Homo sapiens: one gene and its partner. The protein of the gene in region 1 purifies or fractionates together with the protein of each later gene. This does not show direct contact. Each region holds a gene or a part of one and is shown on either strand. Other genes may lie near its edges.

Region 1 (7,707 bases):
CAAGAGGAAACAAAAAACAAACAAAAGACAAATTTCAAATGATCAATTTTTGACCTATTTTAAGCCTGTAAGATCTAAAACTCTATGAATAAGATTAAACCATCCCATAAGTATTTGTAGTGAGTTATATGGTATGGGTAGGTATAGACAGAGAGAGAAAAAATTCTTTTTTTTAAATTATAATGTCCTTATGAAGAAAATGAAGTGATGTGCTATCTTTTACTAGGCCTTCTAGGAATCAGGCAGTCAGCTATAAGGGCCACCACTTTACTGCACTTATTTCTCATTCCAATAATGTAGAGTGTGGTGACATTGAAAGGAAGTGTTGAATAGTGTCTCTTTTAAGTAGTAATAACATCAGGAAACTCAATCTGGTCATGAAAATGGAAAAAAAAAGTATCGTGACACATTCTCTCTAAGGAAATGGCAGCTATTAGAAATGGAATGTGTTACATTTATGAGAAAGGGTCTTGTCTGAGAAGGTATACTGCTTCAGCACACACAGCAACAAATATTGTCATATATGAAGTATGATGCAGATGAAATAGCCCACGCTCCCATTTTATACCACGTTGTTCAGACATTTATTTATATACTGTAAAAATTCTGCATTCTACAATTAAATGACTTTGTAGAAGGCTTAGAGCAGACATACAAATCAATTAAGGGATTGCAAACATGCTGGAGAAATGTAAACATATTTTTTATATGTCAACTTAGGCTTTTTATATATTTAGTGAAAAGACCCACATAGAACTTGAAATAAGCTACAGCAACAATGATTTAGGCTAGATAGAAGAAAGGATGCCTGGGGGTGGTGCTGTAAAATTGCCTCTGAAAGTCATTGGTTGGGACAGTTTCATTATGATCATTTGAGTACAAGGATATAAATTAGAAAAGCTGTTTTCTAGCCCTATTTTTAAAGAAACATCAGATTAAAATTAATATAATTATTAGCATATGGATTGATTTTCTTGACATAAACATCAAATATAATAAAATAGTCATAAAGCAAGTTACTACTGTAAAGTGTTTATTGAAGGCATACTGATTTGATTTTTTTTTAAAGTTAGGATTTTTTTCCCCACATAATTAACATTGGTGACAGTTTTACCTTTTTTTTTTTTTTTTTTTAAATTAGAGGAACTGCAAATTTCTGTCTGCAAAGCACCCTTCTACTGGACATGTTCATACTTCATTATGCATAATTATTATGGGAGGGCAGGATGATGGGATAAAAAGGTATCTGAATTATGAATCAGGGCACTGTGGTTCTGCTGTCCTCTCTTCTATTAGCTAGAGGTGTGACCTTGGACAGGTCACTTTTAAATCCCATTTCTCAGCTTCTTGTAGACAACCTCAAGCCATTGTTAGAGGAGACCATCTCTTATGTTCTTTCCTTCTCTGAAATTCCATTTGGAGATTTTAATTAAATCATAATTTAGATAAGTCAGTATTTTATCTTCCACATATATAAAAAGTAGATTCTTTTTCTCATATTTAAGAAGTTTTAACACAAATTGTCAGTGAATAGTTAAAATTTATCAATATAAGTTATTCTAGCATAAAATTTGAGAATAGCTAATATAGCAGATGGTCACCTTGTACTATATAAAAACTTATAATGAAAACAGTTACTTCATTTCTTATGATCCAACTGTCAAAATAGCTCTCCATCTTTCACTTAGTATATTTTGTATTCATCTAATAGATTTGAAAATGTACATGAATATTTCTTCCCTTTATGTACCATTTTATTTCTATAAAATGATGAATTTTATTATAAATATTCAGAAATATAACAGTATCTTATGCATTATAAGTCCACACTTTTTCGGTCATTACTAAACTTCTTTTCTAATATATTGTACATTTAAACATTTAAGATTACCTTGAAGAGACTACAGTCAGGTGGAAATGTAATTTTACGATTACATAAGTAAGGACACAAACAGTTTCCATATGACTGGAGTGATTTCTGGCTGCCTTAAAAGAGTTATAATGAGTGTCAGTGTCATTGAGATTGACTTCAGTTATTCAAAATATTACACAAAATGTGACCGGAGCAAGCAGTGAATCCAGGAAAATTAATATAAACTAAATTCGATTCCGACATTTAAATTTCCAAAACTCAGATTAAATACTATTTAGGACAGAAATAATTCCTGAAATTTCACGTGTTTACTTTTTTTTTTTAAATGAACCTTTTAAGCTGTACAGGAGAAGCTTGACATATGATTGAAACTGGCTTGGGTAAAATAATAAGAAATTCAATCTTCGTAGTTTTAAATGAGACACAAAATACTCTTTGGAGACTGATTATTAAGCACAAGTCACTCGGGTGCTTTCTACTCTCCCTGTTGGCAAAGGAAGGTAGGGGAGGAATTCATTTACACCTCACACTGATGTGTGAGAAAATGTATTTGTTTCACGTTATGCCAAGAAATAGGAAAACTGATCCGACAGCTCAATTAATAAATAAGTTAAACGTAAAAAGGGATAAAAATAAAATCTTACTTTATGGAGGAAAAGAGTTAAATCTATATGGAGCCTGTTTTAGAACTGACAGTTTGCTAAAACGAATTGACTCAGAATTTTCTACTTATCAAACATTTTCCACTTCTGATTTTATGGCTTTGCTCTAAAACCTAGGAAGTCACCAACTCCGTGCAAGATGCTAACATTTATCTCAATCTTTCTGCCTCTTCAAAGACCGCCTCAAAGCATAAAGATAGTCCATAGCGTCTTACCTAGACAACGAGGAGCTGAAACGCCAAGGCATGACACTGCTCAACACTCAGGCTAGGAAAGAAGTCCGTCCCCGTTAGTTTCTCCAAAATCTAAGTTCCCATTTCGTGGTTGAGATCATGGCTCTATTCTGAGCAGTTTCACGCAGTGTGTGAGTCTAACAAAAACACCCTCTGCAGCTGGAGGGAGCCTTAGCTAAGGCAGGATCCTGTCAAGGCATTCCTAGTGACTTCTGTCTACTAAATTCAGACTGAGGTTTTGCAAAAGGGGCCTCCACAACCAGGCCCAGATTGCCTGGAAAGTATTTCCTGCCTCTGAGGAGTGTGCATGCTAGAAAGGCTGTACGAAGAGAGGGGAGGAGGGGAGAGCCCAGCCGCCTGGGCGTTTTAGGAGTTCTGATTTTACACAGAACTCAAGTGAGTTTTGTCAAAGCTCTTGAGGTGATTAGCTGTAGAGTCATAAAGTCCTAGAGCTTTTTCTATCCCACACTGCTTATGAAAAAAGAAAGAAAGAAAGAAAGAAAACGTAGTTTTCTCTCTATCCACAACCTTTCCACTATATTAAATGTATATGCACAGCTTAATCAAAATGCCTGTGCTTGCTCTCATTTCAAAAGATCTTTTAAGAGAGCAAGATGAATTTAGCCTTAATACCATAATTCTTCTAAATGGCAAAACCTTTTTTGAACATGACTTAAAATTGGAAATGCTGCAGCTTTTCATTCTGTCCCTGAGACCATCTGTAAGTAAAATCCCAAGCATCCAGTTAATAGAACGATTTCTTCCAGATCTCTCTGATCACAAGAATCCTTCACAGAATTAAAATAGTTCGTGTTATGGCAAATGCAGCAGCGCATTACCTCTAGTCAGAATCCTCCAGTTACAAAAATCCAGTGCTGGAGCAGAAGACAGGCTCCATCTTGATCGTATTAGAGTCTTGCTGACATTAAACACTTACAACTGCTTCCATCTAGCATGGCAGCGTTCCTGAATCACATCTCTAAAGCCGCTCATGGTATCTGCATCCTTCGTCCGTCACAAATTTTGTGAACTATCATCTGTTTATCTTTTCTGCTTTCTTGTGCCTCCCTTGAATGACTTCCTCCTAGCTGCTCCAGGTTGGGAATTTGGACTACCATTTGGTTTTGATTAAAACCAGACAGGCAACTCTGGAGAATTTAGGGAATAAGCTAATGGAAACTGCAAGTATGGCTTTAATTAGTGCATCAATTAATAATAGATGTTAGCTCGTCTTATAATAAGATATCACAAATACAAACACAGAGGAAGCTGAAGTCGTTTCAGGAAAAAAGTTACACCAATTTTCCTTCCTTTATGACCCAGAATCCTCTTTAGAGAATGTGGAAGGAAAGAAGAGGGAGGTGGTTTTGGGACATCCAGGCTGTGGAGAGGCCAGTAGAGCAGCTTCATTGTTTATACCAGGGAAGCAGGAAACAGCATCTCTGACTTTAATTATCTTGCTTGGTGGAAATGGCTCAGTCATGTCTCCCTTCTACTTTATTTACAATCAATGGATTTCGCTGCTATTTATGACTCAAGCATTTTTTTGGGGGGGGACTGATGATCAGATTAATTATTAGGTCTATCTGCTTCTTGCAAATTTCTAGAAGCTTTCAATAATAGGAAGTGCAAGAATAATTCCAGTTGGATGTGATAAAATGAGTAACATATAAAGAGGTAAAAGACATCTTAAACTTGTTGGCCCTAAGATCTATCCTGTTCTTCTCTGAAATTGTAAGTAGTTTTCATTGTTCACTGTTATTCTCCATCCCTGTATATCACAAGGGCTATCTTGTAGTACTTTTTGATAATATTGGGTAGGTGATAACTCAAAGATGCACAAGGTTCTAACTACTATTTTTTTCCTTATTAGGTAGCTAAAATCTCTCAAAGTTAATGCAAATCATGAACCATATTAGACCCATGTTAGATGGCAAGAATGACTTATACTGTGCATGAGTTTGAAGATGAGAAGTAGTCAAATAAAAACGTTTGGTCAGAAGCAGCTTTAAAAGTTTAGATCAAAGTCTTATTGACTAAAAACATGAGCATTTAGGTTTCTTTAATTTAATCTTCAACCATAGGCCAAGAAAGAAGTCTGTTCTTCCATAAATTCTTTAAAAAGTATTTATATTTATATTCAAAGTGTTTCTACTGACAGTATGCCTATTTAATCTTTCCAACAATTTTGCGTGTATTCATATGTTTTATTTTACAAATAAAGTATTGAGAAGCAATTTTCTCACAGTCAAATGATACAAAGTGCCCAGGTCCACACTGGAACTCAGATATTCTAGCTCCAAGCTTTGTGCTTTAATTTTTTCTCCATAAACTGCCTTCCTTGACTTCCACTTAATTTCTTTATTAAATTGGGAAGACTTCTTAAACTCTAATAGTTTCTCTTTAAAAATAGAGACAATTTCACATAACTTATAGATTGGAAAGCAGGATGAAATTTATATGCAGAAATATTTGTGTATTTATGTTTATTTCCCTAAGAAAAACACTGGAGAAGAAAGGAATGAGAACTGATATTATGTCTTTCCTAATATAACTTGATATCTCTATCTCTGTCACTGCCTTTAGTACTGATATACAGTGGTTACTCAATATTATATCAGCATCATGCTAATTCTTAGCTACATTTTATTCATGAATACTGTACCCCGCGCCATATACTTTAGTTTTGTTTCTATTTCTATTGGCTTGGGAAAACAAGAAAACTCTGTTCACAAATGCCTTTTAGATATCTAGAAACTCTTGTTAGTAAGTTTCTCATAAACATACCCTTTTCTACACAAAAAATACATTATGTTTTCTTCTATTAATAGGATTACTTCCCAAATCTTTAATTACTTATATTTATTTTTCATTGTTGAGTTGCTTGATTCCAAACAAATCTCAGATCTTATAGTCTTATAAAGGCTTTACCAAATATGAGTGTAAAGATAAATAGTGAGAAAACTTCCTAAGTACTTAGTATTGTGTCAGGAACACTGAAGGAGTTCAAAATATTTGTCCCCTTCTTTCTACTTGCAAATCTAAATACCAACTTCCTTAAATGTTTGACTGTTACTCTGTACTGGATCAGCTAATCAAATAAGGGGACAGGGACAGTTAAGAACTTGAAAACAAAGTATCAGGATAGGAGTCTGCTCCAAAACTAACAGCTTTTGTGACCTGTGTGAGTTACCTAACCGGGGTGAGGATGTCTTAGCTTCCATAACTAAGAATTGTCACAATGCAAAAAGCTAGTCCATATAAAGCCATTAGCTAGAATTATTTTTACCACTTAAATTATTGCCTTTTTTAATGTTTACATCTCTCTTTCAGGTATTTTTAGAATCTTTCTCTCTCTTCTATTGAACTCCAAGTTAAATGTATACATGTGAAACCGTTATAGTGGTGGAACAATTATGTACTCTGTGGAAAGAAGAATAGCAGGAGGTGGATTAAATGGTATTTTAAAGATCACCTTTCTTTTTTTTGTTTTTGTTTTTGTTTTTGAGACAGAGTCTGGCTCTGTTGCCCAGGCTGGAGTGCAGTGGTGGTGATCTCGGCTCAAGGCAACCTCCGCCTCCTAGGTTCAAGCAAATCTCCTGCCTCCATCTCCTGACTAGCTGGGATTACAGATGCACTCCACCACACTTGGCTAATTTCTGTATTTTTAGTAGAGACAGGGTTTCATCGTGTTGGCCAGGGTGGTCTTAAACTCCTGACCTCAAGTGATCTGCCTGCCTCGGCCTCCCAAAGTGCTGGGTTTAGAGGCGTGAGCCACTGTGCCTGGCCTAAAGATCTCTTTTCTACTTAGGTACTTTTACCTAAACAATAAACATTAGCTATGATCATTTATCTAGTCATTTCCCAATCATTTTCAGGAAAGTTGAATCTGGACTTCTGTACAGAATTATTCAGTGTCTCTCATGCAGTTCAAGAACATTTTATGTAAAGCAAGATCTATCCTTTGAAAATAGTGTTTTACTCTTTTATGAAATAAGTAGCAACATCATTAATTCAGTCACATTAGACATTTGTGATATTATGCGTGGAAGTCAGCTTTTATGTTTTCCATTTTTGTTAATGAATATGTTTATAATAGCAATGAACTTGAAATTAATATATAAAGAGAATAAATACCTTGAAAGTATTTTGAAATATCTACATGCATACAGTTAGTGTAATAAATGTTAAGAACACTTTGTCCATGAAAATTATTCGTCTAAAAATCTCTAAAAATTTGCTTGTAATTTATTGAAGTTACTGTATTGGAAACAATAAAAGTAGAATTTATCAGATTTTCTAATTTATTTTTTCAGTAAGCTTTACATGTGTTTTCTTTTTTTAAAAATATATTATCAAGAATTTTTTTATTATTTACTTTTTTTATTATACTATAAGTTCTAGGGTACATGTGCACAACATGCAGGTTTGTTACATATGTATACATGTGCCATGTTGGTGTGCTGCCCCCATCAACTCGTTATTTACATTAGGTATATCTCCTAATGCTATCCCTCCCCCCTCCCCAGATGTAGTCTCACTCTGTCGCCCAGGATGGAGTGCAGTGGCGCAATCTCGGCTCACTGCAAGCTCCGCCTCCTAGGTTCACGCCATTCTCCTGCCTCAGCCTCCCAAGTAGCTGGGACTACTGGCACCCGCCACCATGCCCAGCTATTTTTTTTGTATTTTTAGTAGAGACGGGGTTTCACCGTGTTAGCCAGGATGGTCTCGAGCTCCTGGCCCTGTGATCCACCCGCCTTGGCCTCCCAAAGTGCTGGGATTACAGGTGTGAGCTGCCGCTCCTGGCTCATGTGTTTTCTTTAAATAAGTTCACTTTTGTAGACACATCCAGACCAAGAAAAACCATATAATTTGTAGTTTATATTCAATAAGCATCATGCGCATGATTAGTTTTTTGATCAATTTTGTCACAATTTTG
Region 2 (7,910 bases), on another chromosome or scaffold:
GTGGCCTTGCATCCTGATCTGCCAGAATAGACTCCAGCTACCTAAAGCCCTGAACCGAAATAATTTGGTAGTTATCTTATTTGTCTTTCTTACTGTTTTGTAAATATATGTCTAGCTCACATTTATTTCAATGTTTAATACTAGGAATGTGTTGGTCTTTATTTAGAAGTTTGGTGATGTTTTTGTGACAAGAAATATGCCTTAGAAACTTTATTCTTATTTATATCAATTAGCCTATGGTAAAATTGGTTTTATTATGTCGTTTCACTTAAAGTCACAATTTCTAAGAACCTATCAACATTAAAGGATGACTTACTATATGTGTGTGTGCATATATATATATATATATATATCTGCACGTGTGTGTGTGTGTGTATAAAATAGAACTTATCTTTAGGCTATGGTGTATAAATCTAAGAAAGACAACCACAGCATTATTCTAAAACTTTAGATAAAAAAGCAGATACAAAAGTTAAATAGCTTAAAGTCCATGTAGTTACTAGCAAAGTAAAAAATATACTTTAGATCTTTCAAAATATAAAGCAAAATTTTACCTTTATTCGGTAAAATTTCTCCACATTAAATCCTGCAGCATTCGCCAACCTACGCAGATTTTCTTGAACCACTACCTTGGGATCTCTCCGTTTGGAACTACTGAAGAGATTGAATGAGCTAAGAGTTGGTATATAAGATATCCCACCTGTTCTTGTAGTAAATCCATGTATGAAAATATCTGTTGAAGATAAGCAGTGAAGATTTAAAAGATGCTATTCAAAATACCAGTCTCTCAATTAGACCTTCCCTGATCACTGCTACCTGCCCTTGTTATTTGGCTTCTAATTTCTATGGCATTTTGTACCTCCATATGTTCTTATGGCATTCTGCTTTGTGTTTGTTTTACACTCCCTATGAGATTGTTGCTCTTCAAAAGGTATATTGTGTCTCATCTGGCTTTGTTATATCTAATAGCATATAGCTCACAGAAAATACTGTTTAACCAAGAAGTAAGATTGATTGTTTTAAATTTTACTCTTCTATGAAGGTGCCAATGATTTGAAATTTCAGAATTTCTAAATAGAAGATTTTCAGTGTCATAAATCTCATTGCAAAGGAGGGCTAGATTATTTGTCTCATCATCAAATTTTTGTAAAGCAAATTTATTTATTTGGGGTGGCTTTGAAGGCTTTATCCCTTGACACCCCTGATACTACAGGGCCAAACATGACACCTCTGTGTTGCCACTGATGCTAATGAGTAATCAGCCCACAACAGTCAACAAAAGAAAGGAGGAAAAAAAGAGGTGAACTACCTCTGAAGAAAGACTAGTTTTCCATGTACAAAGTAAAAACAACAGTTAGTGGTTAATATACCTGGGATCAAAGAAGAAGTGATAATAGTTAATTTTCCTCTCAGTGCTGGCAGACTTCTCAAAAATGTTTCTATTTCATTCTGAATTCCTCTTAGTTCTTGAGCTGTGATTACGTTTATTTCAATGGACTGTTTAAAAAGCCCTCCCCTAAAAGTCACTTGCAAATCTTCAAATTCAAAATTGTAAACATCAGTGAAGAGTTGATCAATAAAAGCTTTCATTAATGTCTTCCTGTGCCTGGGTACAATTACCTTAATGCTGCTCAGATTTTTTTCATCAATTTTCTGTTTAATGGTATACAAAGTGGCAGCCATGCTGGGACAGCTAACAATCTCAAATTCTTCCAAGAGAGCTGATAATCCATTGCTTGTTTCTATTTCACAATTATCTTGTTCTCCATCCCTTTCATAGCTGATGTTACTGCAACACATTATACAGAGAAACTTGGCCTTGGCAGCATGGTGGTATTGGACAGCATTCAAAGTCTTCAGTAATGTCTGATGGCAGTTTTTTTGAGAGTTCAATTTCAAACCAAAAAGATCAATCAAAACAGCTTCTGCCATCCTTGAAAGAATACTTTTATGCCAAATAAATCACCTGCAAATAAAAATTAGTGTAAGAATATAAGATTATATAAATCTTATAGTTACAACAGAAATTTGTGGTAGATTAAAAACGAAGTAATTACACTGATTTTAAAATGTAACTAAAATAGTAAATCTAGGCCCCTCCCAGAAAAGCCAGTCTACTCTGTCACAACAGAACCATGACAGTGAAAGCAAAGCCATCTTTTAATTCGTTTTGTGAAAATGCTGGTACATCTTTCCAGCAGCACGACAGTTCCTCTGTTTTGTTTACACAGAACTTTTGAGTAAGGAATTACTTGTGGAGTTTAGACAAAGTCCTGTTTTTAAATTGCAGAGTGTCAACCTGTGTGATATATCATTAGTCCTGACATGATTGTCATATTAGGTCTCATCCTTTCATATGCGGGGGCTTAAGTTTACGAAGCTAAATGGAGCTGCACGCGAAATTCGCGTTTTAAGATGATAAAAGCTGAGATGGCTAATAGAGTTCCCTTCAGGATTTGCGCAGTACTCCACACTTAGCAATGACCACAAAAGCTATAGTGATTTGGATGAGACAGGCTTCCTCTCAACTTTCTTAATTCATTCTCCCCGTGCAGCTTTGCTCACCTCCAGCCCAGCCCTCCCACCCCAACCTGCGGGGCTCCGGTGACCCCCTTTGGTGACGCCCTTTGCCCCAAGAAGGTTTTCTCCTGCCGCTTCCCCTAACCTTTGCTCCCCATCTCTCGGGGCTCCCTCTGAGGTTCATTTAGCCAGTTTTGAGTGGGTGACCGTCCCCCCTTCCCTGTTCATTGTGAATTTCCGCCCAACGTGTGTCGCCGCCAGGTCCCTGTTCCTCCTACCCGCCTCGGCTCACGGGGCGCAGGCTGTGGCTCTGCACCTGCCCGGGCACCTCCACCGGCGGCTCACAGCCCATTCGGGACTTCCTGTCGGACAACGCACACCAGAGGCGATTCGGTCCTCGCCTTCCCGCTCTTCACCTTCGGTTGCACACCGGTCTACGGCGACCTCTGTGACAATTTGCCGCCCCGTCCCTCGTCCTGAGCCTCAACGAAATTGGGCAGCCGCGAGCGGGTCAGCTGGAGTCGTAAGCTCGGCCCAGCGCGACGACACCCGCCCCGCCTCACCTCGCCCACCTCGCCCACCTCGCCCCGCCTCGCCTCGCCCCGCCTCGCCCCGCCTCACCTCGCCCCCCTCGCCCACCTCGCCCCGCCTCACCTCACCTACCTCGCCGCGGCCGCACAGATTCCCCGCCTGATACCGTCCCAGGATCCCAGGGGAAACCTGACGGCCAGGTTCCCTCGTGCCAGCTGCCGGGAGGCGGGAGGGAGGTAGGCCAGGGCCGCCTGGCGTGCTTGGTGCGAACGCGGCGGGCCCAGCGCGAGAGCTGGGGAATCCCGGGATGAGCCAAGCGCCGCGAGCCCGCTGCTGCCTCAGCAGTTCCGGGTCTGGGCGGTCCGCGGAGTCGGCATCCCGCAGCCCCGGCGGCGTTAGAGGAACAGGAACCAGAGCCGCGCGAGGGCTCTCGCCCGGGAGCCAGGCGGGTTAGCGGGCAGGAGTGGGCAGGCCGAGTCCGGAAAGGGTCGCGAGGAGGCAGCTAGGGGCCCCTTGAGGAGGGATAGGGCGGCGGAACGACGGGCCCTGGGAGCGGGCGCAGGGCGGCAGGAGCTGCAGGTCTCCAGAGGGCACGGGGCGGGGAACTAGGGGCCCGGTTAGAAAGCCGGGCGGCGGGAACGGCGGGCACCGTGAGGGGGCGGCGGGAATGGTGGGTCGCGTGAGGCCGGGCTGCTGGAGCGACCTCGGGACTAAACCGCAGTCTCCCTTCTGCTAATGGAAGCCGTTTCCCAAGCGAGCTGAAGTCCGCGTTTCCGGTCTCTGAGGGACGCCTCGCTGACCCAGCAGTGTGGTCAGGACGCTGGGTTTCCTCACCGCAGCCCAGGGCCAGTCCCTTGTCATGCTAGCTCTTGGCAGCTTTTCCCATGCAGGGCTCAAGTCAGGGGCCCCCTCGAGATGTTTTAGTGTTTTTTTGTTGTTCATTTGTTTCCAGAAACAAGCTGTTGTCTCTCCTCCAATGTCTTTGTGCTGATTCTTGCTGACCAACACTCTTCCGAGCGCCTTCACTTGTGTTGACAACACGGATGTCCTCTATGGCCTTTTAAAATATGTGCCACTAGCAGGACTTAAGTAAAAGGCGCTCATCCCTAAAATCATGATAAAGGTGCAGTTTAGCATCCCTGATCTGTCCTCCAAGAATATAACGTTCATTTATTTGAAAATAGCAGTTAGGACATGGAAGGCCAGTGTATGGTAAAGGGAAAAAATATCCGACCTTCCAAGAGTAAGAGAAATGGTGCTTCCTGGGGAACTGGTTATGATGGAAGGAGAGGTCCCTTTTATCTTCATTGTTGCTCATTTGGTAGGCGCTAAAGAACCTTTGTCTCATAATCTCAGATAGCTGGGAATTTGGAAGAGCCCTCTGGGGTAGGCATGTTCTTGTGCTTGACTAGAGACTGGGAGCACTAACCCAGAATGGAAACCCACCCTTCAATAACCCTAGCACCAGTTATGTCAAAATTCATGTTTTCTTTGGTCATTTGTTAAAGAGCCCCGAGCGGTAGATGGTACACCCAATCAGAAGGTGCACTCTGCCCTGAGTTTGTTTATGTTAAATATCATTAGATTGGTGCAAAGGTAATTGCGGTTTTTGCCATTGACAAAGACCACAATTACTTTTGCACCAGCTTAATACCTCAAGCAAAACAGAGGTCTTTTAGTTACAAAGGTTTTAAACATTTATCTCTGTTTTTACAATGGTGGGATTCGTATTCTTTCATGCAAAAGTAGTGGCAGTAAAAAAAAAATGAAAAAGAAAATATTTCAAAAGAATGAAGTTGTCAGGGAAGAGAGTTTGTTATATTGTATTTGCATACCATTTCCTTTCACCATCTGGTCCTAGTGTCATGTCCTAACACTTCCTCATCCCATTTTCACTCTATCCTACTCCAGTGGTTCTCAGTCTTGGCTGCAAATCAGAACTGCAAGTGCAACTGAAAAAAAAAATAATTAATGTAGAGACTCTATCCCAAATATACATTGAATCAGAATCTCTAGGAGTTAGGCCTGAGCATGTTTTGCTTTGCTTTTTTGTTTTGTTTTAACCTCTATGTATGAGTTAGATGCATAATTAAGTTTGAAAAAATAAAAACACCCTATTCCCAAGCCACTCAAATAAAAGCTGTTCTTTGGAGGCCACATGATTTCATTCTTTACATTTGCAGTTCCTCTACTTAGCAAAATACCCTCCTTTTTATATGCCTAACTGCTACTTTTTGTTCAAGGCTCTTCAAGCTCAAACATAATCTTCCCTGAATCCCCATCCCTCATCAAGCAAAATTAATAGCTTCTTTACATTTTGTTCATATGAAGAAGCCCTCTCATAGATGTAGTCTGGGCCCCTAGCCAAGAAATAAGTGGAAAAAATGGTTAAATATTGAATTGTACACTTTATAAGGATGTACTTTGTGGTATGTAAATTATATCTAAAAAAGGCTTTTTTTATAAGAAAAAAGGTCAGTTAAACCACAGAATCATGAAAAAATATAACAAATACCTTAAACTGTATTCTAACCTAAAACAACTGTGTGTTCATTTGCCCATCTATTGAGAAGATCCAAGACCTTTTCTTTGCATGTAGTCTACTGATTGGAATTCTGCATACTATCTCTTGCATAAACCGTACCCATAAACCATCAGCTAAGATTTCCCAAGATTTTGTTCTTTTAAGGGGAAAATAACTTAAAGGCACCTGTGAAGCAATCTGAGGGCAGATTTATACTTTGTAATTTTTTTCTTTTTTGAGATGAAGTCTCGCTCTGTCGCCAGGCTGTAGTACAGTGGTGCGATCTCGGCTCACTGCAGCCTCCACAGGGTTCAAGTGATTCTCCTGCCTTAGCCTCCCAAGTAGCTAGGATTACAGGCGTGCACCACCACGCCCGGCTAATTTTTGTATTTTTAGTAGAGACGGGGTTTCACCATGTTGGCCAGGATGGTCTCGAACTCCTGACCTCTCTTGATCTGCCTGCCTCAGCCTCCCAAAGTGCTGGGATTACAGGCATGAGCCACCGCTATATTTTATAATCTTTTACAGTTAATCTCACATACTTTTGTTGGGTCTTTCCAAAATATTAAACATAGATTTTTAAAGAAACAACAATTTCCACACTATTTCATTGGTTTATACAATATTAAGTTACGAAAGCACAATATCAAGCACAACTGGCAAAAACAGGTTTGCAAACAAACACAAGTAAGTCATAAGATTGAACTAGTCAATTGATAGGAGCAGAAATAGGCAGATTTACTAGTTAACAGTTTCCTAGCATGATATGGGAATTAGTCACTTATGACTTACAAAGGTAATAGAGTGAGTTAAGTGGTTAGAGGTTATGTGTAGATAGGCTTAGACATAAGCTGCTGCGCCTCTCCATTTTAATTGACTGTGTGTCTTTCTGCCTAGAGTGTTTTGAGGGCAGAGATAGTGCCTGGCTATTAAGGGAACTATTGAAGAACTCACCAGACATTTTTATAATGCTATGTAAATCTTCTCATGAGAACAAGTATAATTTTAAAGAACAAAACAGTTGTTTTTAAGCCATTTACACTAAGGTTTATGGATCTTTCCAGAAAAAGCCATGTAGCAGATGCAAATTTCCTTGCTAAAAGCTTCTGTTAGTTTCCTAGGGCTAGCATAACAAATTGGCACTAACTGGGTGACTAAAAACAACAAAAACTTGTTCTCTCACAGTTACGGAGGCCAGATGATGAAACTGAGGTGTTGACAGCACCTTGCACATTTTGGTGGTTCACTTACCTCTTCTGTTGTCTGGTGACTTCAGGTGTTCTTTGCCTAGGGGCTAAGTGACTTCAAGCTCCATGCCTCCATCGTCAAATGGTCTTATTCCATGTGGGTCTGAGTCTCAAGTAGCCCTCTACCTTTCTCTTATAAGGATTCTTGTGTAGAAATAAATGAAGATCAATCAAATGAGAACAAGCAAAAGCTATTTATTCAGGCCTTGTAAGGGAGGGAGCCACAATCTCCTGCATTTTAGCAAAGTTGAAGGCAGGCAGAGGAGTGGGCATGCCCTGATTAGAGGCTCTCAGCATGAGGAAGCTGCAGGCAGGCTAACTAGAAGTGGAGCATTCTATGGCTTCTTTTTGTTAGTCTCAACTTGGAAATGGGGACAAAAGTTAGGGAAGATGCCAGTTATTAATCCAGTACTGGTCATTTGGGACAATTGTTATAGTTTGTCTCCTAGGATTGTTATTAGAGATAATGATTTAACTTTCTACAAGTCTAATTTATAGACTTCCTGGACTGGTTACTGTAGATAATGGGTTAGTCTCCTGGGTTGCTTGCTGCAGGTTGTGGGTCAGAGTTCTGTTTTTACATATGGTCTGGCCATTGTCCATTTGCATATTCAGTCACCTACCCTAAATCCAGGATGATCTCATCTCAAGATCTTTAACCCAGTTAAATCTGCAAAACTCCTTTTTCAAAATAAGGTCACATTTACATGTTCTGGGAGTTAGGACGTGGATATATCTTTGGATGTGCGGGAGGGCACTATTTAACCCACTATAAAGTTCCTCTTGGTTTGGAAATCATGTTTACTTGTTTAGAGGGGGAGGAAATAAAAGACCTTGCCCCTTGCCTCTCTGAATGAGACAAGCAGGTAGGTTATAACTGGATTTCACCAAAGGTCTATATAACTTCTGTCCCAGAGGTAGAAATCTTTTCGAAACAGTTGCCTGGACATCCTTTAAAGCTTGGATTTGAGCTGCAGACCAACCCCTTAATGTCTACACTCCAAAACAAGAGATGTTTTGGTAGTCCAGTACTGTCTATACATTCAGCAAAGCCCCTCCTTTGGTAGAAACCTAGAAGCAGTGTGGAT

Evidence for each region.
Region 2: the proteins of DLC1 (region 1) and LACC1 purify together in Homo sapiens (affinity purification with mass spectrometry; 2 studies listed by BioGRID and IntAct, with this or other methods). This does not show direct contact.

The regions. Positions count from the first base shown.
Region 1 is NC_000008.11:13,511,852-13,519,558, forward strand, and holds the start of DLC1 (rho GTPase-activating protein 7), read right to left. Parts: upstream 3,001-7,707; 5' UTR 2,751-3,000; intron 1-2,750. UniProt on the Homo sapiens protein: Functions as a GTPase-activating protein for the small GTPases RHOA, RHOB, RHOC and CDC42, terminating their downstream signaling.
Region 2 is NC_000013.11:43,875,008-43,882,917, reverse strand, and holds the start of LACC1 (purine nucleoside phosphorylase LACC1), read right to left. Parts: upstream 3,015-7,910; 5' UTR 2,799-3,014; exon of another isoform or gene 2,666-2,798; intron 1,967-2,665; 5' UTR 1,933-1,966; coding exon 1,371-1,932; intron 734-1,370; coding exon 555-733; intron 1-554. UniProt on the Homo sapiens protein: Purine nucleoside enzyme that catalyzes the phosphorolysis of adenosine, guanosine and inosine nucleosides, yielding D-ribose 1-phosphate and the respective free bases, adenine, guanine and hypoxanthine.